7 linked regions of the Homo sapiens genome follow. The protein of the gene in region 1 purifies or fractionates together with the protein of each later gene. This does not show direct contact. Each region holds a gene or a part of one and is shown in the gene's direction. Other genes may lie near its edges. The genes, in order: ST13, IPO9, CHAF1B, PINX1, TSN, SLK and MAP3K3.

Evidence for each region.
Region 2: the proteins of ST13 (region 1) and IPO9 fractionate together in Homo sapiens (co-fractionation; one large-scale study listed by BioGRID). This does not show direct contact.
Region 3: the proteins of ST13 (region 1) and CHAF1B fractionate together in Homo sapiens (co-fractionation; one large-scale study listed by BioGRID). This does not show direct contact.
Region 4: the proteins of ST13 (region 1) and PINX1 purify together in Homo sapiens (co-immunoprecipitation; one large-scale study listed by IntAct). This does not show direct contact.
Region 5: the proteins of ST13 (region 1) and TSN fractionate together in Homo sapiens (co-fractionation; one large-scale study listed by BioGRID). This does not show direct contact.
Region 6: the proteins of ST13 (region 1) and SLK fractionate together in Homo sapiens (co-fractionation; one large-scale study listed by BioGRID). This does not show direct contact.
Region 7: the proteins of ST13 (region 1) and MAP3K3 purify together in Homo sapiens (tandem affinity purification; one large-scale study listed by IntAct). This does not show direct contact.

Annotation. Positions count from the first base shown.
Region 1 is NC_000022.11:40,835,653-40,840,362, reverse strand, and holds part of ST13 (hsc70-interacting protein), read left to right. Parts: intron 1-4,475; coding exon 4,476-4,560; intron 4,561-4,692; coding exon 4,693-4,710. UniProt on the Homo sapiens protein: One HIP oligomer binds the ATPase domains of at least two HSC70 molecules dependent on activation of the HSC70 ATPase by HSP40. Stabilizes the ADP state of HSC70 that has a high affinity for substrate protein.
Region 2 is NC_000001.11:201,855,909-201,860,618, forward strand, and holds part of IPO9 (importin-9), read left to right. Parts: coding exon 1-26; intron 27-1,187; coding exon 1,188-1,286; intron 1,287-2,538; coding exon 2,539-2,645; intron 2,646-2,946; coding exon 2,947-3,086; intron 3,087-4,710. UniProt on the Homo sapiens protein: Nuclear transport receptor that mediates nuclear import of proteins, such as histones, proteasome and actin. Serves as receptor for nuclear localization signals (NLS) in cargo substrates.
Region 3 is NC_000021.9:36,415,774-36,420,107, forward strand, and holds the end of CHAF1B (chromatin assembly factor 1 subunit B), read left to right. Parts: intron 1-501; coding exon 502-593; 3' UTR 594-3,242; downstream 3,243-4,334. UniProt on the Homo sapiens protein: Acts as a component of the histone chaperone complex chromatin assembly factor 1 (CAF-1), which assembles histone octamers onto DNA during replication and repair.
Region 4 is NC_000008.11:10,819,376-10,822,875, reverse strand, and holds part of PINX1 (PIN2/TERF1-interacting telomerase inhibitor 1), read left to right. Parts: intron 1-2,606; coding exon 2,607-2,683; intron 2,684-3,500. UniProt on the Homo sapiens protein: Microtubule-binding protein essential for faithful chromosome segregation. Mediates TRF1 and TERT accumulation in nucleolus and enhances TRF1 binding to telomeres. Inhibits telomerase activity. May inhibit cell proliferation and act as tumor suppressor.
Region 5 is NC_000002.12:121,765,651-121,768,353, forward strand, and holds the end of TSN (translin), read left to right. Parts: 3' UTR 1-2,203; downstream 2,204-2,703. UniProt on the Homo sapiens protein: DNA-binding protein that specifically recognizes consensus sequences at the breakpoint junctions in chromosomal translocations, mostly involving immunoglobulin (Ig)/T-cell receptor gene segments.
Region 6 is NC_000010.11:104,018,427-104,023,136, forward strand, and holds part of SLK (STE20-like serine/threonine-protein kinase), read left to right. Parts: intron 1-357; coding exon 358-482; intron 483-1,307; coding exon 1,308-1,496; intron 1,497-2,061; coding exon 2,062-2,187; intron 2,188-3,193; coding exon 3,194-3,307; intron 3,308-4,710. UniProt on the Homo sapiens protein: Mediates apoptosis and actin stress fiber dissolution.
Region 7 is NC_000017.11:63,680,873-63,685,582, forward strand, and holds part of MAP3K3 (mitogen-activated protein kinase kinase kinase 3), read left to right. Parts: intron 1-893; coding exon 894-1,027; intron 1,028-1,463; exon of another isoform or gene 1,464-1,886; intron 1,887-4,644; coding exon 4,645-4,710. UniProt on the Homo sapiens protein: Component of a protein kinase signal transduction cascade. Mediates activation of the NF-kappa-B, AP1 and DDIT3 transcriptional regulators.

The DNA of each region.
Region 1 (4,710 bases):
GAAAGGCTTTAAAAAAAAAAAAAAAAAGTAGTAGTAGAACAGTGACCCTTAACTTTTTACATACTAATACCCTTGACAGATGATGTTCATAGGCATACCAATCTTCGTCCTAGTCAGAGCATGTTAGATTCTCTTGAGTAAATCCCCTCAGAGTGAGAAAGTGGTGATAGTATTCGGTTTTGTTTTTTGTTTGTTTGTTTGGTTGGTTTTTTTGAGACGGATTCTCACTCTGTTGCCCAGGCTGGAGTGCAGTGATGCGATCTCGGCTCACTACAACCTCCGCCTCCCGGGTTCAAGCAGTCCTCCTGCCTCAGCCTCCCGAGTAGCTGGGATTACAAGCGCGTACCACCATGCCCAGCTAATTTTTTGTATTTTTATTAGAGAAGGGGTTTCACCATGCTGGCCAGTCTGGTCTTGAACTCCTGACCTCGTGATCTGCCCGCCTCAGCCTCCCAAAGTGCTGGGATAACAGGCATGAACCACTGCGCCCAGCCTCTTTTTTTATATATATTTATTTTTTTAACTCTCCAAGGTAACAATAGGTTATTATTTTTTTCTTTTTTCTGTTTTTCAGTTGTATTTTATTTTATTTTTTATTTTTGAGACAGAGTCGTGCTTTGTCGTCCAGGCTGGAATGCAGTGGCGTGATCTCGGCTCTCTGCAACCTCCACCCCAAGTCGAGCAATTCTCCTGCCTCAGCCTCCCTAGTAGCTGGGATTACAGGCGTGTGCTACCATCTCCAGCTAATTTTTGTATTTTTAGTAGAGACGGGGTTTCACTATGTTGGCCAGGCTGGTCTCAAATTCCTGACCTCGAGTGATGTGCCCGCCTCTGCCTCCCAAAGTGCTGGGATTGCAGACGCGAACCACTGCGCCCGGCCCATGGTAGTATTAAGTGTAATGTTTGATCGGTTATAATTTGTAAGAACAAATCATGTATAAACTTGGGTACTGTGGCTGCTTGAGTAATATTTCACTCTTTATAACAGTGATAGTGTGTCACAATGCCATAGTTGACTAGATGCTATTGTATAGTGCTCATGTGCATTTGGACTTCATTATTAGATTTAGAAGATGATTGAAGTTATTTTTAGAATGAGTTCAGTATTGATGTTCCGAGTTAGTATATATTTTAAACATTTTGTGATTCTACCACCTGATTAATTTAGCTCCTTAAAACATGTTTATACTGTTTTATACTGCAGTTGCCTTAATAGTTTACCTTCCTGAAAAATTTATTCCTTTATTGCTTTCTGTTTACTTTCCCTAGGTTATTCTTAGAGCTGTTTTTTATTCTACTCTTGCTTGTAACCTGTGATTAACTTTTGCATATATATTTAAGATCTTCATCAGAGGATTATAGACCTGCCAGACTAAGATCCTGTATTTTACTTCTCCAATCTTGTTTTCTCCAGTCAGACTTTACTGTTCTAGAATTTTTTTTTTTTTTTTATTTATGCTATACTGTTTCTCTGGAAAGCTTTTCTTCACATATTTCAACTTTTAATTCATACCTATCAGTTGTTCCCAGCCATTGCTCTTCTGTACCATTCCTTTTCATCGCACGAAACTTTTGCTAATTTCCCTACCACCTAAATTTTAAGAGACAGAGTCTTACTCTGCCACTCAGTTTGGAGTGCAGTGGCATGGTCATGGCTCACTGCAGCCTCAAGTTTTGTAGGCTCAAGCAATCTTCCTGAGTAGCTGGCAATACAGGTGCCTGCCACCATGCCTGGCTAATTATTATCTCTTTTTTTTTTTTTTGGTAGAGATAGGGTTTCATCCTGTTGCCCAGGCTCGTCTTGAACTCCTGCCCTCAAGCAGGCCTCCCAAGCTCAGCATCTGAAAGTGCTAGGATTACAGGTGTGAGGCACTGTGCCCAGCCCATTTTAAAATTTACTGTCTCGGCAATATGTAACAAAAGGAAAATGAGGCTATCACCTAATCATGTTTTTGTTTTCTCACTTTTTTCTGAACTCTCTGTTCATGTGCCTTTGTAAATTTAATCTAGTTCTGATTTTAGAATTTATGCAATTGTATAGTGTATTCTAAAGGATAAAAGATTAGTATTCTAAAGCAGGGGTTGTGAATCCAAGCTCCACCAAGGTTGGTGAAGGCAGTTTTGTTTGGAGAATGTAATTAAAACCTGGAGTATGGAGCCAGAGTGGTATGGTTTGAATCCCACGTCTGGCACTTAACTGTGGCTGCTTTCCCACTACAACAGCATCATTGAGTAGTTATGACAGATTGTATGGTCTGCAGAGATTAAAATAATTCTTATTTGGCCCTTTCCAGAAAACGTTTACCAACTCCTGAACTAAATGTATGGAGGAGCCATTTGTTTAGTTGGGAAGATACAGATTGGGAATAGATTTGGAAATGGGCTAGGAAATGGGAATTCAGTTTTTCGGTTTTGAGTGGGCGTGGTGGTTCACACTTAACAATCCCAGCACTTTGAGGGGCCGAAGCGAAAGGATCTCTTGAGTCCAAGAGTCCAAGATCAGCCTGGTCAACACAGTGAGACTCCATCTCTTAAACACAAAAAATTAGCTGGATGTGGTAGCACGTTTCTGTAATATGAGCTACTTGAGAGGCTGAGATGGGAGGTTCCCTTGAGGCTGGGAGGATCCTTTGAGCCCAGGAAGTTGAGGGTGCAGTGAGCTGTGATTGTGTCACTGCACTCCAACCTGGGTGACAGAGCAAGACCTTTTTTTTTTGAGATGGAGTTTCAGTCTTGTTGCCCAGACTGGAGTGCAATGGCACGATCTTGGCTCACCGCAACCTCCGCCTCCCGGGTTCAAGCGATTCTCCTGCCTCAGATTCCTGAGTAGCTGGGATTACAGGCATGCGCCACCATATGCGGCTAATTTTATATTTTTAGTAGAGACGGGGTTTCTCCACGTTGGTCAGGCTGGTCTTGGTATTTCTCCATGTTGGTCAGGCTGGTCTTGAACTCCCGACCTCAGGTGATCCACCTGCCTCGGCCTCCCAAAGTGCTGAGATTACAGGCGTGAGCCACTGTGCCCAGCCAAGACCCTGTCATAAAAAAAATTTAGGTTTTGAACATGGTAGGTCTGAGTTGTTTATTAGACATTTAAGTGTAATTACCTATAATAGATACCTGTAGTAGTAATTAATAAGACTGAGCATTTTTCTGTGTTGTTTTTGTGAGTTCTTTTCAAGTCCTTTACTCATTCGCTAACTGGCTAAGTATCTTTCACAGTGAATTGTGACATTTATTTAAAAATTTCTGTGTTCGGCCTGGCACAGTGGTAATCCCAGCTACTCAGAAGGCTGAGTTGGGGGGATTACTGGAGCCCAGGAGTTCGAGAGCAGCCTAGGTGACACAGTGAGGCCCAGTCTCTAAAAAATTTTTTTTAATTAGCCAGGTTTAGTGTTGTGGGCTTGTATTCCCAGCTACTCAGGAAGCTGAGGTGGGATGATCACTTCAGCCTGTGAGCTATGATCATGCCACTGTACTCTAGCCTATGTGAGAGTTAGACCCTGTCTCTTAAAAAAAATTCTGTATTTGTCTTGCCTCCCCAAGATTTAGACTTTGTGCAAAGAACTCTTCTGATTCTATAGGGTGTTTTATTTGTTGAATGACATAAGGGATTAGTAAAGAAGCTAACTATGAGAATAGGACAAAATGAATTAAAGTATAGGTTATGGTCTTTTATGAATTCTAGTTTTCTTGAATTTTTGTACCATTTCTTTGAATTCAAATAATAAGCATATTGTTGTTTTCTTTTAAAATCAGCCCTGTGAAGTTAACATGGGTTACTTTTCCTTTCTAAGCTTAATTTTTTCTTTTTAATTTAATGGATAAAAGAAAATCAATGGAATAAAATTAATTTATCTTATCCTTTAAATTGATTTTATCTTTTTACTTTTTTCTTTTATTTTTATTTTTATTTTTTTGAGACGGAGTCGTGCTGTGTCACCCAGGCTGGAGTGCAGTGGTGATCTCGCCTCACTGGAAGCTCCGCCTCCCGGGTTCGCGCCACTCCTCAGCCTCCCAAGTGGCTGGGACTACAGGGCTCCGCCCCCACGCCCAGCTAATTTTTTGTATTTTTTAGTAGAGATGGAGTTTCACCGTGTTAGCCAGGATGGTCTCGATCTCCTGACCTCATGATTTGCCTGCCTTGGCCTCCCAAAGTGCTGGGATTACAGGCGTGAGCCACCGTGCCCGTCTACTTTTTCCTTAAACAAGATCAATATGGGTCATACTAAGAATGTGCTATTCTATTGTTAGTTAGGGGCTTACGTACTCAGAAATTGTCTTACCTCGTGAGTTACAGTATAGGTGTGGTAAGATTTGCTTTCAAGAGCCAGTTTTAGTATAACTTAGTTGTCTTTTTTATTTTTACTTGATTAAAAGAAAAATGTAAAAGACTTAACTGGATAACAGATCAAAACTTTTTATTAATATTTTTATCCTCTGAATATTTCTCGATAACTTTTGTTTCACTTTAGGTGAACTCCAGAAAGCCATTGACTTATTCACAGATGCCATCAAGCTGAATCCTCGCTTGGCCATTTTGTATGCCAAGAGGGCCAGGTGAGAACTCTAAACAGAAAAGCATCCCCTGGCAAATAATTTCTGCACATTTGTTTAAATAGAGTTGCTTCTGTGTTGATCCCAAAACTTTTACTGAAATGAATACTTTTTAATAACACACTTATTTTTCAGTGTCTTCGTCAAATTACA
Region 2 (4,710 bases), on another chromosome or scaffold:
TGTACATGCAAATCACTGAGGAGCAGGTAAATAATATTTGAGAGACAGTTACCATCTTGTATTTGGAAAGTGCAACTTGAAGAATATGAGGTCTTGGTCAGGTGAACACTTTATTTCTAAAAATAGACACAAAAAGAATAATTTCATGTGAAGTTCTGGGAAAGGTTTGACATCATTTTATTGCCAAATCCAAGGTTTTGGAGTTCACCACCATACCTGGCTTTTTTTTTTTTTTTTTTTCCCAGCAAAGTACTATACTATGTTGCCCAGGCTAGTAGTCTCTAACTCCTGGGCTCAAGCAATCCACCCACCTTGGCCTCTCAAAGTGCTGGGATTACAGGCATGAGTGACTGTGCCTGGCCCACTTTTGCCATTAGAAAATCTCACAGGACCACTAACCTAAGACACTGATTTTTAGGAGAATCTGTTCCTTCCCTAAAGTAAAATGTAATAATCAGACCATTAGCCTGATGGTGGGTCATCAAAAGCAGCAAAGAACGTTCAAAAATTAGATAACGCCTCGTTTAAAACAGCACAAGAATTGACATAATTTTCACAATAAATAGTCTATCAGACTTAATCTATTCAGAAAATCGATCTATCAAAGGGTAACAGCAGGTTGACATTGGCAGAGAGCTAGTAATCAGCCAGATTCTAAAAGAGAGCAATAGCCATTGCTACCTACCTTGCTACTTAATAGTATTTATTTCTCTACATCAAAAAGAAAAGATTTTTTTAAGCTAGAGTTTTTGTTTCAGTTTTTGTTGTTGTTGTTGTTTTGTTTTGTTTGCTTTTTGGGACAGGGTCTTGCTGTTTTGCTCAGGCTGGAGTGCAGTGGTGTAGACAAAGCTCACGGCAGCCTTGACCTCCCAGGCTCAAGCCATCCTCCTGCCTCAGCCTCCCGAGTAGCTGAGACCACAGGCATATGCCACCATGCCCAGTTGACTTTTTTATTTTTTGTAGAGGTGGGGTCTCACTATGTTGCCCAGGCTGGTCTCAAACTCCTGGGCTCAAGCAGTCCTCCCACCTTGGCCTCCCAAAGTGTCAGGATTACAGTTGTGAGCCATTGCATCCAGCAAAAGGCTAGAGTTTTTTCAGGATAATAGGTTGAAATCTTCCTGTATCTGTTGATGAAAAGCTATGAATCAGATTGGCAGCATCACAAAGACATAACTTGATCTTTTCAGATTAAAGTATGGACAGCCAACCCCCAACAATTTGTAGAAGATGAAGATGATGATACATTCTCCTATACTGTTAGAATAGCAGCTCAAGACTTGTTGCTGGTAAGTTTACCTTGATACTTCAGCCACATAATTTCTATCAGTCACTTGAGCATTTCTTCTTTTTTGTAGACAACTAATCCAAGGTGAGCAGTGTTGTTGGGTGGCTTTATCTCAGACTTTATTGGGGATGCAAGAGAGTTTCTGAAATGAAATTCGAGACTCAGAAATTCTAAAATCATTGCTACTGGTTCTAACTTAAAACTAAATATTAGATAAAAGAATTGTGCAGACCATAGGGCCGGGGTGCGGGGGAGAATTGTATAGAGGATAAAGTGTTCCATGGAGTAAGGGTAGTTGAATCAAGAACATTTCAGTTTATGGCTGGGCGTGGTGACTCACACCTGTAATCCCAGCACTTGGGGAGGCCGAGGCGGGCAGATCACCTGAGGTCCAGAGTTCAAGACTAGCCTGACCAACATGGAGAAACCCCATCTCTACTAAACATACAAAATTAGCCGGGCGTGATGGCGCATGCCTGTAATCCCAGCTACTCGGGAGGCTGACGCAGGAGAATTGCTTGAACCCGGGAGGCGGAGGTTGTGGTGAGCCAAGATTACACCATTGCGCTCCAGCCTGGGCGACAAGAGTGAAACTTGGTCTCAAAAAAAAAAAAAAAAGCCATTTCAGTTTAATTCACTCTTCAACAAGAATCTATAGCACAGACAAAAGGTTGGCAAACCTAGCAAAACAAAACAGATTGCTGAAAGATTAACATCCAAATACCTGCTCATGTTTTCTTTGCCTCTTCTGACTAGAGCATAGAGTTGTCTCTAGGCTGAAATACTAAGAAGAAACTGCCACTTGCTTCTTGTTGGGTAGGAGATTTGTTCTCTGTTGATGAATCACTTCTCATTATCATTTAGTATTTCTAAGGAGCTGTGAAAGATTATATTCAGTTCCAATTAGTAGATTAGACTTATTTTTCTATCATCAGTCTCCAAGAGAGCAAATATTTGGTCCATTGTCATCCAAAGCTAGATCTATTATTGCTCACTTATGCTCTGCTGAATATAGCCAAAGGAGCCAACTGGTTAGCCTTACAATGCCTAGGCACTACCGAAATACAGATACTACTTTAATTTCATTAGAGACCCTGACCTACTGGTATAACATTTTTAATACAATTAGGGGTTTGCACATGTATGTGAAAGAGCTTGAACCAATCACTTCTAACAGTCATGACTGAAGCGGTTTACAATTAAAATGCATTTAATGGGCACAAACAGATTTATTAGCTCTTCTCTCTCTATAGGCTGTGGCCACAGATTTCCAGAATGAAAGTGCAGCAGCCCTGGCTGCTGCAGCCACTCGACATTTACAAGAAGCTGAGCAAACCAAAAACAGTGGCACTGAGCACTGGTAAGAGTGAGCCGCTAATTGGTTAAGATGCTTTTGTTTACCCCTTCTTAAAAAGTCTTGAAAGGATGGATTTATTTTTATCTTAATTTGAAAATCTGGTTTTAATTTAATAACAGATTTTAATCTCTTATTATTAAAATTTCACTCTTTTCAGCTATAGGTTAGAATGGAAGGGCTTAAGGTAAATGACTCTTTTGGAAGAGATTGTGCTGGAGTGCCCTTTTCTGAATCTTGTTTCCTCAAATATTTATCTCTTTTGGCAGTTTAGTATGTTTTACTAGGCTGTAGTATCCTTTCACAGGTGGAAGATCCATGAGGCATGCATGCTTGCCCTAGGCTCAGTGAAGGCCATCATCACTGACAGTGTGAAAAATGGCAGGATTCATTTTGACATGCATGGGTTCCTGACCAATGTCATCCTTGCAGACCTCAACCTCTCAGGTATGTTTCAGCACGTGCCAGGATTCTAGAAACTCTTTAAACCTGTTGTGGGGTTGGGGGAGGGATCAGCATTAGGAGATATACCTGATGTAAGTGACAAGTTAATGGGTGCAGCACACCAACATGGCACATGTATACATATGTAACCTGCACATTGTGTACATGTACCCTAGAACTCAAAGTATAATATATATATATATATATATATATATAAAGGAAACTCTTTAAACCTGTCATTAACTTGGTTATATTGTTCACTTAGACTGGTAGGCCAGATATTCTTGTGTCCTTTGAGTGAAAATTGTTTGCACCCTACAGCTTGAACTCATCCGAACCTCTAAAACAGCCCAGAGGCCGATTCAAGCTTCACCTAATGACAATCTAATATTGCCTAGTTCATAATTCTTCCGTGATGTTTATGTTTCTTCCCAAATTGGCGTTCCCATTCATGGTTGTTTTTGGCATTTGAATGGAATCCAAATCTGGTTGCTGTACCTTGAGAATTATCGAGTACTGCTCCCATTGTTAAGTCCAGAATGCCCTCAGGCATTCTGTATCAGGCACATTCTTCCTGTTTGTTTCCTGTCATTTTTCTCAAACTTTATTTTTGGCCAATATCCAAATAATTAAAATGTTCCATTCTCATACCCATGTTAGCCATCTGTCTTAAAAAGAAAAAAGTAGGCCAGGCGCGATGGCTCATGCCTCTAATCCCAGCACTTTGGGAGGCTAAGGCAGGTGACTCACCTGAGGTCAGGAGTTCAAGACCAGCCTGGCCAACTTGGCGAAACCCCATCTCTACTAAAAATATAAAAATTAGCTGGGTGTGGTAGCAGGAGCCTGTAGTCCCAGCTACTCAAGAGGCTGAGGCAGGAGAATCACTTGAACCAGGAGGCAGAGGTTGCAGAGAACTGAGATCACACCACTGTATTCCACCTTGGGTGACAGAGCGAGACTTGGTTTAAAAAAAAAAAAAAGGTAGCCCTTTACTATTAGACCGATTTCTTCCGCAATACAGAGCAGTAGCTGAGAATCATTGTTGTCTATGTGGCATTTTCTGCTACTTGCTTCTGCCATGCCATGCCTTTTCTCATCCTTGGAGCCAGATCACCATCCGAAAACACTGCCTTTGCTTTCTCTCTCAGTACTTAAATCATGGAACCTTTGGTATTGTTTGCTCCATTTTCGGTCCATTTACTTCCTCTCCATAGGATAGTTCTGGGAGTAGCTTATGTCATTTGAAAATGTTCTGCTCTGTGATTTTAAATAGGTAATCTATTATCGGGTGTCTCAGTCCATCACTTCCATTCTCTGAATCACAAATTAAAATGGTTGTACATCCAGAGCTCAGATGCGTTGGGAATATCCTGTTTCACTCTGTACTTATCATATGCTGCATTGTTGAATATGTTTTCTTACTCCTACTAGTAAGGTCTCTGAGAGTAGAAATCATGTCTAATCTTTGTATCCTACAAGTGCCTTGAGTAGGCATCCCATAGTTACACATTGAATGATTTCTGAAGCCCATCAACACATTTCTTATAGAGTTTACCCTAGCAAAGATTTTTCAAAAACTTTGGAAATTTTAGAATATTTGTTATTTAGTCTGGAAAAAGGCTCAATA
Region 3 (4,334 bases), on another chromosome or scaffold:
ATGCAGTCTTGCTCTGTCGCCCAGGCTGGAATGCAGTGGCACGATTTCGGCTCACTGCAGCCTCCACCTCCCACGTTCAAGCAATTCTCCTGCCTCGGCCTCCCGAGTAGCCGGGACTACAGGCGTGCGCCATCACACCCGGGTAATTTTTGTATTTTTAGTAGAGTCGGGGGTTTCACCACGTTGGCCAGGCTGGTCTTGAACTCCTGGCCTCAAATGATCCACCCGCCTCAGCCTCCCAAAGTGCTGCGATTACAGGCGTGAGCCACCGCGCCCAGCTTGCCCATGACATTCAAAAATGCCACTAGACATTGCCCACTGTCCCTTGAGAGGCAAAATCGCCCCTGGTTGAGAGCCACTCTATAGAACTTCCATTATATCAGTATAGGATCTTGCCAGGCAGCTCAGTTCCGTGTCTTGGCTCTGTATTCTGTAAATGTCAGCCCTTGACTTCCAGAATTCTTCATTTACTTGCCAACCTTATGTTTGTTAATGTTGCAGAGACGCCTGGAGACGCTCAGGGCAGTCCCCCAGAGCTAAAGCGGCCCAGACTCGATGAAAACAAAGGAGGCACGGAAAGTCTGGACCCTTGATGGGACCTCGGCTTCTGCTCGAAGCCTACCAGGCTCCCGGTGTGTGCAGGGAGACGGTAAAGCTGGAGGTGCCTGAGACCAGGGCTTCCATGGAGCGGGACACACTGTAAATGGATTTCTATAACAGAAGTGACATGTGTACTGATTTTTCTCCAGAAATATGGATGCTGTTGTATTCAGTATCCATTTTTAACTTGGGACATGAACGTTTTAACGTAGTAAATCCTCTTTTTGATGAGTTTCTGAAACTGGAGCGGTTCAACGTTATCCAGTGTGAAAATCAGTGAGTCCTCCCTGGCATCCTCGTGAAAGTGCACACACTTCATGGAGGGACTCCTTTTCAATAAGAATTAGGAAGATGAGAAAGTAATTTGAGATTTTACTCTGTCGAATTTTAGAGTATTTGAAGTGATTGTTAGATTTCACTTCTAAGGAGTTGATTGATTAAACTTTGGAAGGTAGTTGTGTTTGTTTTCTGATTTTAAAGGTGACGATGCTTATTCTTTTAGTAACTAAGTGAAGTGAAAAAGATGGGTATCACCCATCATCTTCCCACCAGAAGTAACCCTCGTTAATGTTGTAGTATATTTCCTTAGCATTTTTGTGGATCTATTTATTCTAAAAAGAGAATTGAGATTTTATTTCATATGCAATTTGGTATCTAAATAGGTTAGTTTTTTAGATTGGTTTTTCAAAGCAAAAAAAGTATCTTTTTTGTTTTTTGAGACAGGGTCTTGCTCTGTTGCCCAGGCTGGAGTGCAGTGGCGCTATCTCAGCTCACTGCAGCCTCGACCTCCTGGGCTCGAGCGATCCTTCCACCTCAGCTTCCCGAGTAGCTGGGACTACAGGCATGTGCCACCATGCCATGCTAATTTCACACACACATGCACCCACACACACACATATATATGATACATATATATATATATACACACACACACAAGTATGTGTGTATATATATATTTTTTTTCTTTTTTTTTTGAGATGGAGTCTCACTCTGTCGCCCAGGCTGGAGTACAGTGGCACAATCTCGGCTCACTATAACCTCCGCCTCCTGGGTTCAAACGATTCTCCTGCCTCTGCCTCTTGAGTAGCTAGGATTACAGGTGTGTGCCACCACATCCGGCTAATTTTTATATTTTTAGTAGAGATGGGGTTTTGCCATGTTGGCCAAGCTGGTCTCTAACTCCTGACCTCAGATGATCTGCCTGCCTCGGCCTCCCAAAGTGTTGGGATTACAGGTGTGAGCTACTGCACCTGGCCTAATTATTATATTTTTAGGGGAGACGGGGTTTTTCCATGTTGCCCAGGCTGGTCTCGAACTCCTGGGGCTCAAGTAATCCTCCCTCCCCAGCCTCCCAAAGTGTTGGGATTACAGGCGTGAGACACCATGCCTGGTCAAATGGTATCTGTTTTGACGGGTGGTTCTCAACTGTAGCTGCATACTGAAATCACCTAAGAGCTGACATACCAGTGCCTGGGTTCCCGCTTCGGAGGATTTGGCCTAATCGGTCTGGGGTATGTTCTGAATATTAGGATTTCTTAAAGCTCCTGGAGTAATTCTGATGCGCAGCCAAGATTGAGAAATCTAAGGGAAAAAACTTTCCCTGGATACGGTCTGTTCTGGTTAAATGCATTTCCACTGAAAGCATTTTTTTTTTTTTCCGAGACAGAGTCTCGCTCTGTCACCCAGGCTGGAGTGCAGTGGCGCAATCTCCACTCACTGCAACCTCACCTCCTAGGTTCAAGGGATTCTCCTGCCTCAGCCTCTCCAGTAGCTGGGATTACAGGCACCCGCCACCACGCCCGGCTAATTTTTGTATTTTTAGTAGAGATGGTGTTTCACCATGTTGGTCAGGCTGGTCTCCAACGCCTGACCTCGTGATCTGCCCACCTCAGCCTCCCAAAGTGCTGGGATTACAGGCGTGAGCCACCGCGCCCAGCCGAAAGCATTTTCTTGATTATCTCTGCCCCGTCACTGATTGACATCCTCCTTTGCTGGGGCCGCGGACTGAAGGACAGTATGCAGGAGGTGCCATCAGCTCTTCTGAAAAGAGACAGCTTTCAGTGTCATGTGGCTGGCGTGAGGTGCGGTTTGCAGTTGTTGATCCTGTGCAGACAGATGAATGACCATGGGTCCCCTGTCCTTATTGAGCAGCCTGCTTCCTGGCCATACCTGGGGAGGAACAGTATTAGGTTTTTCTGGGTGTGGTGGCTCACACCTGTAATCCCAGCACTTTGGGAGGCCAAGGTGGGTGGATCACTTGAGGTTGGGAGTTTGAGACCAGCCTGGCCAACATGGTGGAACCCCATCTCTACTAAAAATACAAAAACTAGCCAGGCGCGGTGGCACACACTTGTAATCCCAGCTACTCGGGAGGCTGAGGCACAAGAATCGCTTGAACCCGGGAGGCGGAGTTTGTAGTGAGCTGAGATGGTGCCACTGTACTCCAGCCTGGGCGACAGAGCGAGACTCTGTCTCAAAAAAAAAAAAAAAGAGAAAAAGAAGAACAGTATTAGGTTTTACAAATCTGTTTCTTGTGCATTGATTGTGGGAGTTGGGGTGGGGGACCCCTGATGGCCTGCCTGTTCTCAGCCATCATCCTTAAATATAAATCAAAATTGGCAATAAAAGACCAAGTGAAGTCACTTCAGTGTCATAGTCTAAAACTGCCTGCAACCATCTGGGCAGTGTATTGGGAAAGCTTTTGCAAAGGGAGCCCAGCCTGAAGGTTGGGCAGGCTTCCACCTTACAGTGGCTGCTGGGTTGAAGATCCTTCTCATGGTTCTGGATCTGTACTTGGAGGGGTCGTTGTTTCTGTTTTGAGCAGTATTTCCAGATGTCTCTAGCAACTCTACTGTTGAATATTAGTTCCTGCTGCTGGGGGTGCCTAGAAGAAAATCAGTCTCAGGCTTGGGGAGACTGCTTGGGAGAACTTGACCTGACTTCCCTGGAATCTGGGATTGTGAGGATAGGTCGGCGTTTGAAGGAAGAAAGTTGGAGGCTCAGCGTGGGCAGCAGAGGGTGAAGCCTTCATTTTATGCAGTGGCCCGTACGGTGGACAGGGGTATGCGGTGCCTCCTCGGGTTATCGTGGATAACGGGCCCAGCCATCCTCAGCAAGTGCCCACAGGGCCAGGGCCCTCTAGCAGAGAGGGGCAGGAGGATGTGCCACGGGGCAGGGGAGAAAGTCTCCTGGGGTCCTCGTTTACTCCAGTTTCCTCCCTTATATCCACTTCCGTCGTCTTTGCTGAAAGCACATCTGTGTAACGATGCCCTTGGCCCTCCTTACCTAAATAGTTGTCAGCGTTCACTTAAACAACATAGGTTCCAAGTCCTTGGCTCTGGAAACATCAAATGGGGAGAGGGAGGAGGTGGAGGATGAGCTGCTCCAGCCCCTTCTTCCCTGGTCTGGGGTCTCCCAGGACTTCTGCAGCCTCCCTGGTTATTAAGCTACAGTTCAACCTTGGGTGTGTGTGTAGGACAGACAGACTTGGACAAATTACTTCATGGGTCTGTGCCTGTTTCTTCATCAGAAAAAGTCTCTACAGCTAGAAAACCTTGGACTTTGTTTGCTTTGGTAGGGGAGAGGGGTAAGAGAAAATGTAGGGGGGGGTCACCCACAGAGAAACGAGAGACTGAGTTAATGCAGCTGGAAGCTGAGCCAGATTGTACTTCCCTTGCCTGGCATATTGAAGTAACACACTTGTTTTCATGCACAAATTCTCAGTGGCCACTGGG
Region 4 (3,500 bases), on another chromosome or scaffold:
AAACCTTAAGTGTTTTTTTATTTTAGCAAACATATTCCTTGCCCTTCACTTCTTTACTCTCGGCAGCTCAACTCTGCTTTTCCATAGAGTTGGTTTTTTGAGCCTCAGTTCTAATACAGCTTGTTGGGTTATTGCTAAACTGTTTCCAAATCATCTTGATTCCTAAGTTCTCGTGTCAATGAAAGTTTTAGTTGCCTCCCATGTGTATTTCTTGGTATTGTAAATGTGTCTGACTATAGCAGTAATGTTCCTCCCTTCCCAGTAGCTACTCTGATAGACTGGGAAACTGATAATCATGATTATTAGACAAACAGCTAAAGCAAACCTAAATAGAGTGTTCTTCCTTGAAAGTACCTGCTCATCCTTGCAGGAACTTTCAGTTTGACTCTTGGAGGCCTTTCTTACTGGTTCTGGAAATGTTACGCATTGAAGACTAATAGATGAACCAAATCCAGATAGATGTTTCCTATTCAGTTTTCTTCATTGTCGTTTTCTCTAAGTTTATCAACAGTATTTTGTATGATTTGACCATAATTCAGAACTCAAACAAATAAGCTTTTTAAATGCTTTTTAAATTTGTCGTATTTATTCAAAAGCGGCCATAATTTCCTGGTGTTTATAAGCTTTCCATCAGGACCATTAATTAGTAACTATCTCAAGGTCACTTCCATCTTCACCTTTTTGTCCACCTTTTATGTTCCTTTCCACTGGTCTCTGACTCTTCTTTCTTCTCTGTGTTCTTGTTTTCCAGATCAAATCCAGAGCAAGGCCTGTAACAATCCTGGTTTCTACATTTACTTAAGTGAACTTTGCTAAAGGCTAAAAATTTCTGATACAAGAATCCATCATCAAAACTTTAGACACATTTGCACCTTCATTGATATAGCTTACTGTCTCTACCAGCTTGACAGTTTTCCCTTTGACTTTCAGATCTGTTTTGAATCTGTGTGTTCACATTTTGACATCATGTTTTAGAACTGTGATCTCGCATGTACCCTCTCTTCCTTAATCCCTCCAGCATTCCTTTTAGTCAAATTGCTATAGAAGAGACCTTAATTTGCATTTTCTAGAGTGTCTCTATTCCAGAGGATAGGTTAGGGATAGATGGCCAGTACACATTTTGAATTAAGTACAGCTGCCTTTTCTGAAGTACAAACTGTGCTTTGCATTGGAAAATGGGTTGTGCTGGCAGCAAAGCTGTGAGGACATCTCTACACCTCCGATGAGTTTGTCCACCTCTTCCCGCTACAACCAGTTTTCTTCCCCACTTTCCCGGTTCATTTTCTGCCGTATCTGTGGTGTGCATCGTCTATTCTTAAGTAGGTTTTCTTTTGGGTCTTTTTGTGTAGGTCCTATTTAATCATAAATGAAAAGCAGGAGGGCTTAGTGTCAAGCTCAGGTAGGAAGGAGAGCAGCAGCCAGAGCCCAGAGGAGCCTGCCCTCCTGGCAGGAACAGGTCATACCGCCTGGGCCACTTCATCTGGTACTGCTGCCTAGGAAACTGGTTTTGGCACCTGGTTTTGCATTAAATTGAAGAGTGTTTTGTTTTTTTAATTTCACGGAGTCACTGAGCAATATCATATTTAAGTGCCCCAGTGATAGTGAACTAGAACCTTCTGGGTCATGACATTACTTTGCCAAGGCAGTGTGCTACAGGAAACCAAGAAGACAAGTGAGTCTGTGACGGTGGAACTCGGCTTCCAGCGTGAGACTCACATTCCTGTGTCTGACCCAGAACCTCCCTCGCCCAGAGCCTCAAGCCTTTACATGGAGTAGTTACATTTTAAAATGCATTTACCATGCCGTTGACAAATGGGACTAGATTTGGCCTACTGCTCACAGAGGATTATTGGGTAGAAGTGGAAATTCCAAAGAAGTGAATTTTAAATTAGTTGGTTTGGGGGTTTGAAATTAAAGAGTTTAGTGTTTTAAATAAGAACCATAGAGCCATTTAATTTCCTACTCTCCCTATGTAGCTTTTTATTTAGAGACAATATAGCTAGAGCAGTAAAGAACATTTTAAGAAGAAAAATCTGAAACCCTGTCACCCTTTTACAGTATTTTTGATTTACATATATTCTTTTAAAATTTTTATTTGTTGAGTTAATTATTAAGATCCTGTGTGTCAAATATGATACGTTCTCATTCATGTGCATATGTGGGGTCTGGAGCTGTGTATCTAGTGATATTTTTTCATGTGTATTTCGTAATCTTCTAAGTAAGTAGCTCATGTCTCTGAAGCAAATGAGATCTATTTTTAAATGAAGAACCCAGAGACCCAGGAATTGCATCTTGAGGGCATAGCGGGAGTAGGGTGAGCTGTAGAATTTAGCTTTCCTTGCAGTCAGTATGCTCTAGGTTGTTTCTACAATTAAGAGAATGTCAAGAGTTCTGGTTCTAAAACATTTACTTGGTTTTAAAATTTAATTAATTTTGTTTACTAATGAAAGAGTTGTAATGAAAAAGTGGGTAGAAAGTCAGTAGTTTCAAAATTGTTTCTTTCTTTCCCAAAAGCCATTTTCCTTTGAGGTGCTGCATAGTTCATGTCTGCGCTCTTTCTTTTAGGAAGAACAGTCTTACTGAAAAGCATCACATTGTTTTTCTAGGGAAGGATCTGTCATCTCGGAGCAAAACAGATCTTGACTGCATTTTTGGGAAAAGACAGAGTAAGAAGACTCCCGAGGTATAAAGCCACGTACAGTTTCCGTGTTCCGCTTTAATACTGTCTGATTTTCACCTGTGTATAGGACTGTTTCTATCTATGACTAGTACTTTTCTGACAAACTTTCCAAAACACTTTGGAGGCTTCATGCACAGCCTAGATATGATCCTTTTCATAATATTAGTGGGTAGATAATGTTTTATAAGGAATCTTTAAAAAAAAGAATAAGTGTTTTCTGGTGTTTGGCTTTTGTTCTTTTTGTTTTGGTGTGAGGACTAGATTAAACTTGGGGAAGAACACCCATTGCCGATACAATCAGAGGGGAAAATATCTCTTCCATGGCCGAGAAGGGGAGGGATTTTGTCTGTTCTGCTCAAACTGCATTACTCCACTTGGAATGGAGGTGGGAGGAAGCATGTCACCTTCATTCTCTAGAACCAGCCTGTCCCATTCTAACAGCATTTGAGACAGCGCTAGATCAGCACCATCTATAAGGGGGTTTGATGGGTATTTCCTCTATTATACAATATTATTTGCCTTACAACTAGAAGAAAAGAATGGGGTGACTAAACTACACCCTCAATGGAATGAACTCCATAATTTATTCTAATTATTAAATTGGGCTGTATAATATTGCAAAGAATTTTTTGTGCTGTTTTGAAGTGTAAGAGACAGCCCTGGATATAGTTTGAGATATATTAGGATTATGGATTTCTAAAGATAACAGGCTAAAAGTATTTAGAACTGGCATTGTCTGAGAAAATCTGGAATATATGGTTGTGACCACTGTTACTCAGCTAATCTGGTATGTTGTACTGATGATCTTTTATTGGTTTGT
Region 5 (2,703 bases), on another chromosome or scaffold:
TTTCTTGCTTACCTTGACTGTTGATGTACTGATTGAGAAGTTCATTGTCTCGTTTGTGATTCTTCCAGATGTGATGCTTGATATTTTCTATATGCGAGTTAGCCATCCACACCCAGGCATAGCCTGGATACAGTATAAAAATAGATAATTAAAAAGATGGTTGCCAAGCAAGGAAAACTTATTTTATATTTTCCCTTCCTTATTTTAAGCATTGTGAGTAAATCAGATGTTGAATTCTTTTGCCAAGGGAATTATAGCTGCAGGTTCTCTCTCACTGCCATCAAACTGTAAAAGATTAAACTGCGAAGTCAAGCTCAACAGATTATTTTGGAAAGTTTTTGTATTAAGGGATTTAGTAACATCATTTTGTTTTCCACCAGGCAGGGAGTAGGGCTTAGTGTTTTAAAACACCTCTGCTTTCTGATGTTGCCTTAATATTCTGCTATTGCAGCAATTAAAAATTGTCTTCATGTACATTTGGAACTAACACGTGATGTGATATATTCCTAAACTATGAAACCTTTTTCCTAGTAGTCAGCTAGATCATTTGTTCTGGGAGTATAAAGCCACCCACGTAAGTTAATAAGCAAAATCCTGACTATTATGTTGTTAGAGAAAAATGCTTTGCTTTGTCTGGAAGAAAGATAAAATAGTGAATTATAAATAAGTCAGGCCGGGCGTGGTGGCTCACACCTGTAATCCCAGCACACTGGGAGGCCGAGGCAGGGGGACTGCTTGAGCTCAGGAGTTCGAGACCAGCCTGGGCAACAAAGTGAGACTCCATCTCTATATAAAAACAAAAACCACGAAAGCACACACAAAATAAATCAGTGGGATTTGGTAATGTGTTTTAGAGTAAGAAATTTCAGGTTGTTGGTGACTATCCCAACAGTCATGTTTTAAATGTACAGTTTGGGGCAAGTCATGTAAATACTGTTGGTGGTCTTCCCCACACGCCCCAATTTTCAGGTAGTACTAAGAGTATGTGCCAGGAAACTCTTGCTATTGAATTGAGATGATTAAAATGGTGACTTAATCCGTAGTTATTTTGCACCCACTGAAAGGAAAGTGCTTTCCAGAATAATATGAAGTATCTAAAAGTGTCACCTTTTCTTGCCTGATCAACAATTTGGGCTTCCTGTTTGTACAAGGGGCCATTTGGCATACCTTTCACAGCTTTTATCAGGCCAAGTTAAAGGCTGACTACATTTTTTCATCATGAGGAAAGCAGTTGAAATGAGGCATGAGTTACTGTGCATTGGGATTTTAGAACAATTTTCTTGTGACAGCTCTTTTTGTGAAGTTAGGTTCTTAAAAGTGCCCATGATGGTCACTTAAAATGTGCAGTAATAGCACTGCCAGGATCAAGCATGAAAGGCTTTTAAATTAGATCATCCCACAGACAATACGTTTGATAATAGTTTTTTCTTTTAACCTCTTTAAGTATTGATTCTGCTTGAGAATATTGAAGTACTTGCCAGAAGTTGTGGATTTCAGTTTTAACAAATGCTATTAAAGTGGAGAAGCACACTCTGGTCTTGGAATTCCATTTGAGGATTTAGAAGTGTCATGTTTATAACTATTCAGTTGTGTTTGTTGCTGGCTTGTTGTAAAGCAATAAAATTTTTTTGGTCTTTTTGTAAGTGAGTGTGCTGCTGTAAGAAATCTCCCATGTGCATAACAAATTCTGAATATTTTTTGAGGCTAAAGAAGACCGGGGTGACAAGCAGATACTGCTGTGTAATGGTTACACTAACCAAAAGACACCAGCCACTCAGAGTTCTATACTGTAAAGCGCAGATAACATTTGTGTGTTATACCTTGATTGGGGAATTAAAAGTCATTTAACTGAAGATGTTGAGAAACCTGGGCTCTGGTTTTAGTATACCGGAATTACTTTTTTCCAATTTTAGAAAATCAAGCAGGTTAGAGAAAATAGAGATGAATTAGGGGACACTGTCTTATGGATTCATTTATAAGAAGAGAACCAGCCATATACACTTGGGGAGATTTGCCACATCTTAAACTTGAATAATAGTATGAGTAATGCTTAAGGGAGTTTAATAGAGAAGGAAAGCTTTGGCAGTGTTTTGAGAACTTAAGTGGCTAAAGAGATGAGACAAACATGCAGGTCGCTACTGGCATAGTTTCATAATTGTGTACTCGGAAATTAAAGTTTGCTTGTTTCTTGGTCTGGATTAAACTGTTTGTCCTCCTTTTCAGATAGAGCATCACAGTCAGGGCTGACACCAAAATAAGACTTTCCCTGAGCCTGAAATAATTTTTTTTTTTTTTTAAGTATCTACTGTAATAAGCATCAAACAAGCAGAAATAAACAATGTCCCTTCCCCTGGACAACAACAACAGCAATAACAAACATTTAAAGGCGGTAAAATTGCCAGGACTGGTGGGTTGGTTGAGTGGGCTGGGTGCGGGTAGTAGGACGAGATGGGACGGGACGGGGAGGAATCTAGCATCGCTGCCAGGTTTCTGGCTCAGGTTTGGTGCCATTCACTGAGGTGAGGAGTGTAGGAAGATCGCATGTCTGGAGGGGGCTGGGCAGCTGATGCATTTGCTTTTGGATGTGTTGGATTTATGACACTGGAGCGGCAGGTGGATAAATCAAAAGTGGGTAAGATCTCCCTGGAGAACGTGTAGAATGAGAAGAGTCACAAGCTGGGGACAAATTCTTGGTTAACAGCA
Region 6 (4,710 bases), on another chromosome or scaffold:
CATTATGCCTTATAGTTGTTAGTATACCTAATGGTCGTGTGTTAGAATGGGATTTAAAGTACTTATCTTCCCTAACAAATTAGCTTAGATTTTTTTTTCTTTCTTATTAAGATGATTAAATAGGATTTTGGTGTTCGGAGTAGGACATTCTCTGTTTATACGACATTAGAACAGTCTGGAAAGAGGTAATAGATATTGCCTTACATTGGTTACAGTTGCACTTGGACAGCTCAGAATGTCAACATGTGTGTACGAGTTAGTGTATTTAGAATACTTCTATGTAAATATTAAAATGAAGAGCAAAGTACATTAGTAAAAAAAGAGCAAAGTGACATTTTGAAAACTGCTGTCTTCTAGCTCGAGAAGCTGCAATTTGGGAGCTCGAAGAACGACACTTACAAGAAAAACACCAGCTGCTCAAACAGCAGCTTAAAGATCAGTATTTCATGCAAAGACATCAGCTACTTAAGCGCCACGAGAAGGTTAATGAAAGGAAAATTTCTTCATTTTTTTGTTCGTTTTAAAGTTTGCAAAGCTATTTAGTTTTGAAACTTAAGTTTCTTAGATAATGAATTTTAGATTTCCTTTCTGTCTTTTATCCTACAATTTCTTGGATGAAGTTTGGAGTAATTAATTGTATCTTGATCATGATTGCAAACTTCTTTTCTACAAATTATAAGGAAAGTAACTAATTACAATGCTTAAAGACGTTTTACACCTTGTAATCTTCATCTCGGCTCTCAAAGGTAGCTATTTTGGCTCTATTTGTGGTTCAAGTATCTTAAAGTATGGACTCCTTGTACTTATTAAGAGTTGCAGTATAAAACTCTCATCACTAATAACTTTCTTTTCTTTTTATTCTTTTGAGACAGAGTCTCGCTCTGTCACCTGGGCTGGAGTGCAGTGGCACTCAGTCATAGCTCACTTAACCTCGAACTCCTGGGTTCAAGGGATCCTCCTACCTCAGCCTCCCAAGTACATTCATGCACCACCACACCCTGCTAATTAAAAAAAAAAATTTTGTGTGTGGAGACAGGGTCTCACTATGTTTCACAGGCTGGTCTCAAACTCCTAGGCTCAAGTGATCCTCCTATGTCAGCCTCCCAAAGTGCTGGGATTACAGGTGTCAGCCACCAGACCTAGCCTAACTTCTTACAAGTTATTTTGTGCCTAGTATTTTGCTGGTCACTGCAACAAGGGAGAGGGTAATTATAGGAAACAACAATAACAAAATGACATATTTGAATATGCATGTGGGTACTGACTATTGTTTCTGCGTCACTGGATTCTATTTAAAACTTTCATAGGAAACAGAGCAAATGCAGCGTTACAATCAAAGACTTATTGAGGAATTGAAAAACAGACAGACTCAAGAAAGAGCAAGACTGCCCAAGATTCAGCGCAGTGAAGCCAAGACTCGAATGGCCATGTTTAAGAAGAGTTTGAGAATTAACTCAACAGCCACACCAGATCAGGACCGTGATAAAATTAAACAGGTAAATATGCAAGTTAGTCTCTTCTCTTTTAGGTTTAAAATTTTTGAATGACCATTAGAAGTTCTACAAAATTCCTTTCTTTCTAAACAATTAGAGCCACCTTAGGCTTGTTGATGTTCACTTTAATTCTGTGGGCTGGGACTATAGATACATGGCATATACCAATTAGTCTTCCCCAGGATGGTGGTCACAGAGAGCAAAGCCCTTCCTCCTATACCCCATACCAGCTCCTGAGCTAGACTGGTCCTAAGACCAGCCCTGGGAATGAGATGACTCGGACAACTTTTCAAGTCAAGATATATGGCCTCACTGTGATACTTCTGTAGTCATGGTCACACACACAAATTAACTCAGATCACTAAGCAGATAGGAGGATCAAGGTTTTAATCAGAAGTTCCTGCTCTTCTCTGAAGCTGTGATGTGGACTCCAGGTTTGAGTCTCAGCATATTATTACTTGTAGCTTCAGTTTATTGTGCCTTGTTTTGTTAAATTCCTTTATATCTTCAGAATATATAGAAATCACATGCTTCTGAACTATAGTTTATCTTTTTTTCTTATTTATAGTTTGCTGCACAAGAAGAAAAGAGGCAGAAAAATGAGAGAATGGCTCAGCATCAGAAACATGAGAATCAAATGCGAGATCTTCAGTTGCAGTGTGAAGCCAATGTCCGCGAACTGCATCAGCTGCAGGTCAGATACAGAAGCCTGACAGCAAAGCCCATAGGATGCGGCAGCACAAGTGGCTGCTTTTGAGAGAACAGTAGCTAGCCAAAGTCAACTGCATCATACACGAACATGCTGGGTTTGAGAGGTTCTGTTTTTTGTACAGATCCAAATGAAGATCAGTTTGGTATCATAGGCACTTGTGTAGATTATATATAACCATGATTAATGTAAACATAAAGCTAAATTGTAACCTACGAAATTGAGTCTTTCAAAAGCAGTATTGAGTATGGTTTTTAGTATATTTTGCAAGAAGATGTGGAGAGTTTCAAAATGATGTAGACAGTTTTGTTGTCATATTCTGAATTTTTTGTCAGATTCTAAATTTAAAATTTCTTTTCCATTTAGAGGGAAATAGTTTATTTTCTTCTAGGTTTTTGAAATAAGTGATAAGTTAAATATATGGGAATTTTTCTCCTAGGAAATTTAAAAGTTATTCGAGAGAGGGCTGATTTAGGACCTTACATAGAATGTACAGCCCATCTAAAATGTTTAAGATTTCAGAGTAGTGTATAAATGTGGGTATCTATATATTTGCTTAATTTACTATAGTAGAACAGATCCTAATAGATTGGCCTAATGGGCCAATAGATCTTTTACAGGAATAGATCTATTAGGCCAACCCTTTAGTACCAGATCCCACATTCTGTACTCACGGGTAAAATGTATGCAGGCTGCCTTCTGAAGTGTCAGTTTTATGAGCAAATCTTCTTAGAAAGGAAAAACAAAAGCTCAAGCTAGTTCTTTTTAAGTTCTTTTTATATGGTATGTAATAGTTCTAGCTTCTAAACTTGTAAAAATGAAGCTATGATTCATTTCCTAATTCATGGCCCTTGGTTTTTATAGAGGAAAACTTGAATCTCAGTAATAGCATGATATTTGATGAGTAATTTATTATTATGGAAGATAATTGTATTTGTGAAAAATTGCTTAGTTGATCTGAAATTTTTTTAAATCCCAACTTTATTTTCAGAATGAAAAATGCCACTTGTTGGTTGAGCATGAGACTCAGAAACTGAAGGAGTTAGATGAGGAACATAGCCAAGAATTAAAGGAGTGGAGAGAGAAATTGAGACCTAGGAAAAAGGTAATTTTAAAAGCTTTAATTAAAATGATATGTGTGTACTCGTCCGTCTACCCAGCTATTGGCTCTTTACCTACTGTGTCAGGTACAGTGTCAGGGGCAGGAAACATAGAGATGAAAAGACAAAGTTTTTGTCCCCAGAAGTTTTGGAATCTAGTGACAAGCAGTTAGGAATTGGTAGGGTCATTGCTCTGAAGGAGGTGAGTACAGGATACAAGGGAAAGGAACAGATTTTGTAAGCAGAGGAGGAGGAGAGCTTAAATCTGCCTGGGTAAGTCAGGGAGGGTCTTCAAGAGGAGATGCCTTGCAAGCCAAGTGAGTCTTGAAGGGTGAGTAAGAACTTGCTAAGCGGATGGGCTGATTGGAGTGGAATGGGATGATTTGAGTAGGGAGAAGAGAATGAGTGAAAAGGAAGCGTACAGAGAATTGTAGATCGTTCTCTGACATTGGAGTATGAGAGGGGGTGTGTGCCAGTGTGTAGTCATTAGGGAGGAAGAAAAGGAAGGAAGGAAGGAAGCGATGACAGCTGAGTCTGAACAGGTCAACTGGAGCCATATTAAAAGGCCCTGTTATTCTACGTAAACTTGAAATCTGGTAAAATAGGGATGGTGTCTTCTCTGTCTCACCCCTTTCCCTTGTTTGTGCTTGACACCCTATTCACCTGGTCTTACTGGCTAACCATTTCACCTGAGTTTTTGCTATCACTATATGATCTCTGACCCTTCGTTACTCAAACTTAAACCTTTGTTTTGGGGGGAGCTTCCTGCCTACTGTACATTTCCACCATTCCTTTCTTCCATCCATACAATCAGTCAAGGAAATATGTATTTAGCTATGTGCCAAAGGAAGTGAAATGACTAAATGAGTTCATAGTGTGGCTTTTTGTTTGTTTGTTTAGACAGAGTCTCACTCTGTCGCCCAGGCTGGAGTGCAATGGTGCGATCTCGGCTCACTGCAACCTCCGCCTCCTGGGTTCAAGCAATTCCTCTGCCTCAGCCCCCCAGGTAGCTGGGATTACAGGCATCCACCACCACACCTGGCTAATTTTTGTATTTTCAGTAGAGACGGGGCTTCGCCATGTTGGCCAGGCTGGTCTCAAACTCCAAACCTTAGGTGATCCACCCACTTGGGCCTCTCGAAGTGCTGGGATTATAGGCGTGAGCCACCATGCCCGGCCCATAGTGTGGCTTTTTAATTTAAATTTTCTTTATTGTTAAACTTTTTGAATAGGTAATGCATTCATGTAGTTTAGAATTCAAAAGGTACAGAATTGTAAACGGTGTAAAATCTCCTTTACCTACTTGCAGCCTAGCATCTGCTTCAAACACCCTAGTTGAACTAGTTGACAGTGGTCACAAGTGAGTTGCTAATAGTCAAATCCTATGGCCTTATCTAACTGTTCTCCT
Region 7 (4,710 bases), on another chromosome or scaffold:
TACCTCTCAGGATTGTTGAAAGGATTAAGTGAAGTAACAAATGTAAAAATACCTTGTGGAATGATTGCCACTTAGCAGCCACTCAAAAAATATTTGCCAAACCTCTGTTGTAGAGATGTTGAAAATCAAATGAGGTTAATTACTGTGAATGTGTAACAAAAAGTAAAGCACCACATAAATGCAAGATAATATCATTACTCAGACCAACCTGAGCAACATAGTGAGACCCTGTCTCAATTTAAAAAAAAAAAAAAAAAAGGTAATATCATTACTCATAAGCCAGGAAGTGTGGGAGTGGGTAGGAATGGAGAAGCCTGCCTTTTGATCCTGGCCAGACCATCACGAAGGCCTTTTTACCTGATACAAGTAGAGAACAAATAAGGGGAGACACTGGCTGGGGGAACAGGGCAACAGAGAGAGATGCACAGGTATATTCAGTTACCTTTCCCTGGTCCCCACCCTCAAAATACTGCTTGGACCCAAAACTAAAGAGGACTAAGCTGATGTATTGAGCTGATGGGAGGAAATGGCATTAGTGCTCTAGAGGAAGAGAGAAGGTGACATTATGAAGGAGTAATTATATATAAGAATTTTTTTAAAAGCTAGTCTGATTGCCAGCTAAAATGGTCTCCTAGGGGTTATTCTGGTTTCTGTTTTGTGTCAAGGTTTTTTTGGTCGGATATGCCGTAGTGCCTGCTCCATCTCTGGAGTTTGTTTCCTATTAGGAAGGGACTTTGTTTGCCTGAGGGAGCTGGCACATGCTGGACGTTGGTGCCATGACCCATCTGAGTCACATTCCTGACCTCTAGGGCCTAATAGTTGGCCCCATGCCTGCTCCTCTTGGGCCACACACCCTGGGCTCTGTTGTTGAAAGCCTCCTTTATGTGCTCTAGGCTCCCAGAACCCTGGCCGAAGCTCACCTCCCCCTGGCTATGTTCCTGAGCGGCAGCAGCACATTGCCCGGCAGGGGTCCTACACCAGCATCAACAGTGAGGGGGAGTTCATCCCAGAGACCAGCGAGCAGTGCGTGAGTATAGGGGGGCTGGGATATGCCTGTGGCCTGTATCAGCAGACCAAGCTCATAACAAGGGGTTCTTAGTAGTCACAGTGCAGAACTGAGGGACATGAACCCCATTTGAAAGCTCTTTTATAAACCAGGCCTGCCCAAATATGGATTGTCCCTTTTTAAGGGCCAAATAACAATTTCTGCCAAAGATGGGATCTAAAGGATCTAAACTACATAGTTTCCTTGTTGTTGGGTGAGGATTTAACAGATTTTTCTTCATCGTGGTCCTCTCATTGTTCCTACAGGCAGGCACCACCACGCCCAGCTCATTTCAGTAGTGTTTTAACATACGACTGGTTCTAAAGTGACAGGTTATGTTTTTCATTGGATATATTTTAGTTTTGCTGTTTCTTGATGAAAGGTAAGGAGTAAACCATATCAAAATTACACTGTAGGATTGGTTAGGCTGATCATTTATGATGGTAGACAGTTGTATTAGTTATCTATTGCTCCATAACAAATTACCACAAACCTAGAGGCTTAAAACAATATACATTTATCATTTTCCAGTTTCCCTGGGTGAGGAGTCCAGGCATGACTCAAATGGGTCCTCTGCTGAGGGTCACACAAGACTGCGATCAAGGTGTCAGCCAGGCTGCCTGCCTTTCTTGAGTTTGAGGCTCTTTTCTAAGCTCAGATGGTTGTTGCCAGAATTCAGTTTTTTTGTGGCTGTAGGACTGTGGTTCCTCTTTTCTTCTGAATGTCACCCAAGGGCTTCTCTGAGTTCCCTTCCTAGAGGCCACCTGCAGTTCCTTGCCATGGGGCCCTCTCACAACATGGCAGCTTCTTCAAAGCCAGCAGGAGAATCTTTTGCTCCAATCTGCAAAGATGGAGTCATAAAACATCACATAATCATAGGAATGAATATTCTATCCTCTTTGCCATAGTCTATTGGCTAGACTCACGTCACAGGTTCTACTTGCACTAAAGGGAAAGGCAGTTCATTGGGACTAATTGGAAGAGGGAGCAATCACCTTAGGGTGTGTCTACCACAGTGGCTCAGCCATTTTAGTGGCTAGCTTTTAAATTGGTGGCTTACTTGATGCAAATGGCAATTTGGCTTAGTGAACTCACCAAGCATGAGATCTCTAGCTTCATTCTGGTCTTTTCAATAAACTTGCTTTGATGTAAAAGAAAAGGCTGCTCTTACACTTTCTGGGCTTGGCCTGAGAAGGGGAAATTTCTTAAGGGGAAAATGTCCAACAGAAGGGCCTGTGCTGTCACATGGGAGATCTTATAAAAAGCTGATTCTTGTAACTTTTCTTTCATTATTCAAACTATGTAGGCTATGAGAAGCCCTTTGTACTCTTCTTCCTTCTATACTCCTGCCTTCCAGATAAATTCATGTTTGGAGTAGTGACCTGGAGTGCCATTAGCTGCAGATTTCCTTTTTGGGCATTTTACTGACCATCCTTTCTGGTTTCTCTAACCAGGGCACTTCTGGACATCAGCTGTTCTAGGGGTGACTTGGGTGTAAAATCCCAGAGATTGCAGATGAGCTTGATTGCCCTCAGTCTATGTCCCTCGCCATGGTCCTATACTCTGCCCCCTTCACTTTTTTACTTTGCCTGCATGGCCCTGGAAGGCCTGGGAGGATTTGACTCCCAGTGAGGACAGACTTTTAGAAAGAGGCCAAGGAAGGCAGTGGTTGGGGATTGCCAAGGTCCTCCCCCAGCGCCTGCCTCTTTAGCTGAAGAGAATTGCTCCTGGTAACAGGCCATTTGAGATCAATCTGCTTAACAGGAACGAACACTGCATAGTATGTAATAAAAGAATATTCCAGTGTGACTTTACTGAAAAGTGAAAATATGATAAGTTTTGTTTTTTCTTTAATCAGGTTTAAGCAATAATTGCATCTATTTACTAATTTTTAGAATGAGCAAAGCATGATTCATGTTAATTTTTTGGCCTAATTTTTCCAACAAAAATTATGTCAGTCCGGTCGCAGTGGCTCATAGCTGTAATCCCAGCACTTTGGGAGGCCAAGGCAGGAGGATTGCTTGAGGTCAGGAGTTCAAGACCAGCCTGGGCAACATAGCAAAACCCTGTCTCTACAAAAAAAAAAAATTTAATTAGCTGGGCATAGTGGCACACCTGCCTGTAGTCCCAGCTACTCGGGAGGCTGAGGTGGGAGGATCACTTGAGCCCAGGCTGCAGTGAATTGCACTCCAGCTTAGGTGACAGAATGAGACCCTGTCTCGAACAACAGCACCAACAACAAAATGCTAGCACAATGTAACGTCCTTCACTCCCTGCTTGACTTCTAACCATAAAGAACGTCATTTTTTACAAGAGCGTTCACAGGACTCAGCAGTTTTCCCCAAGGCCTCTTGTGAATCTTTGGTATTCTTCCTCCACCACACCTGCCATGTTATTTATTTGTCCATTTTGTCTTTTTCTGTTAACTAGTCTAAATTTGCCAAATATGCATCTGATGGATTTAAAGCAATTCTCTCCGATGTTGGTTTCATCCACTTTGGCTATCCTATATCCTTAGCAACATTTGCAGTTTTACTTTGCAATTAATTTGCCTTGATTGGCAGATTTTAAAAAATCATGTGTGACAACATGACTTAAAGCATTTGAAATTATGGGTGGGGATGGACCCTGGTATTAAATGGGAAAAAATATTTGAGTTGGAAACTAATTTTATGGAGGTCGTTAGTGAATTTTCATAATTCTGATACTTTGTTTCCCTATGTAATTTTTTAAAATTAATTAAAAAAATATTTAAACAGAAACAAGATCTCACTATGTTGCCCAGGCTGGTCTTGAACTCCTGAGTGCAAGTGATCCTTCCCTCTCGGCTCCCAAAGTGCTAGGATTACAGGCATGAGCCACCAAGTCTGGCCCCTATGTAATGTTTAATGTTGGAGCTCGGATAATGAATATTCTGAAATTGAAGACCCCACCCCAACTTTTGTGCAGAGAAAATGAAAGGGAGGACCTTCAGGACATTGATTGGAGAAAAAGGGATTCCAAAGGCCTTTTGTTGCTGCATTTGACCAGGGGCCAGAGAAATATTTTATTATATTTAGATATCTATTACCTCTGCATTGGACCAGGAACTGGGACATTTTTGTTCTGGTATCAGCTGTGCACTAACTAGTTTTATGACTTTAGACAAGTCTCCTAACCTTTCTAGGCCTGTAGTGCTCATCTGTGAAATGAGGCAATCCTTGTCTTTGTAAATTATAAATTATGGAGTGTAAACAGAAGCATTAAGGTCCCACCCGAACTCACTGGAAGGCTCAGCAGGGTAGTACCATCTCCAGCGCCAGGCTCCAGTGTTAATGAGCCAAGAACATGCCAACAAGAAAAGCAGAGCCTCTGCTTTGCTCTCCTGCCAGAGCTCCTTGGGATGCCAGCCAAGCATTTTTCTCCCTCCTGGAAACTTGCCTTTCAAACTAAGGGGGAGGATGGTACCTTTCTAACTATTCTTCCCATTGCATGGGGAGAAAAAGGACACTTTCATGTTTTGACAAAAAGGCCCATTTGCTGGCCCTTGCCATAAAGCCTGGGTCACTGGGGGGAATTGGGGCTGGGGGTGTGGCTTCATTGTTTGACTTGCCTTACAGATGCTGGATCCCCTGAGCAGTGCAGAAAATTCCTTGTCTGGAAGCTGCCAATCCTTGGACAGGTCA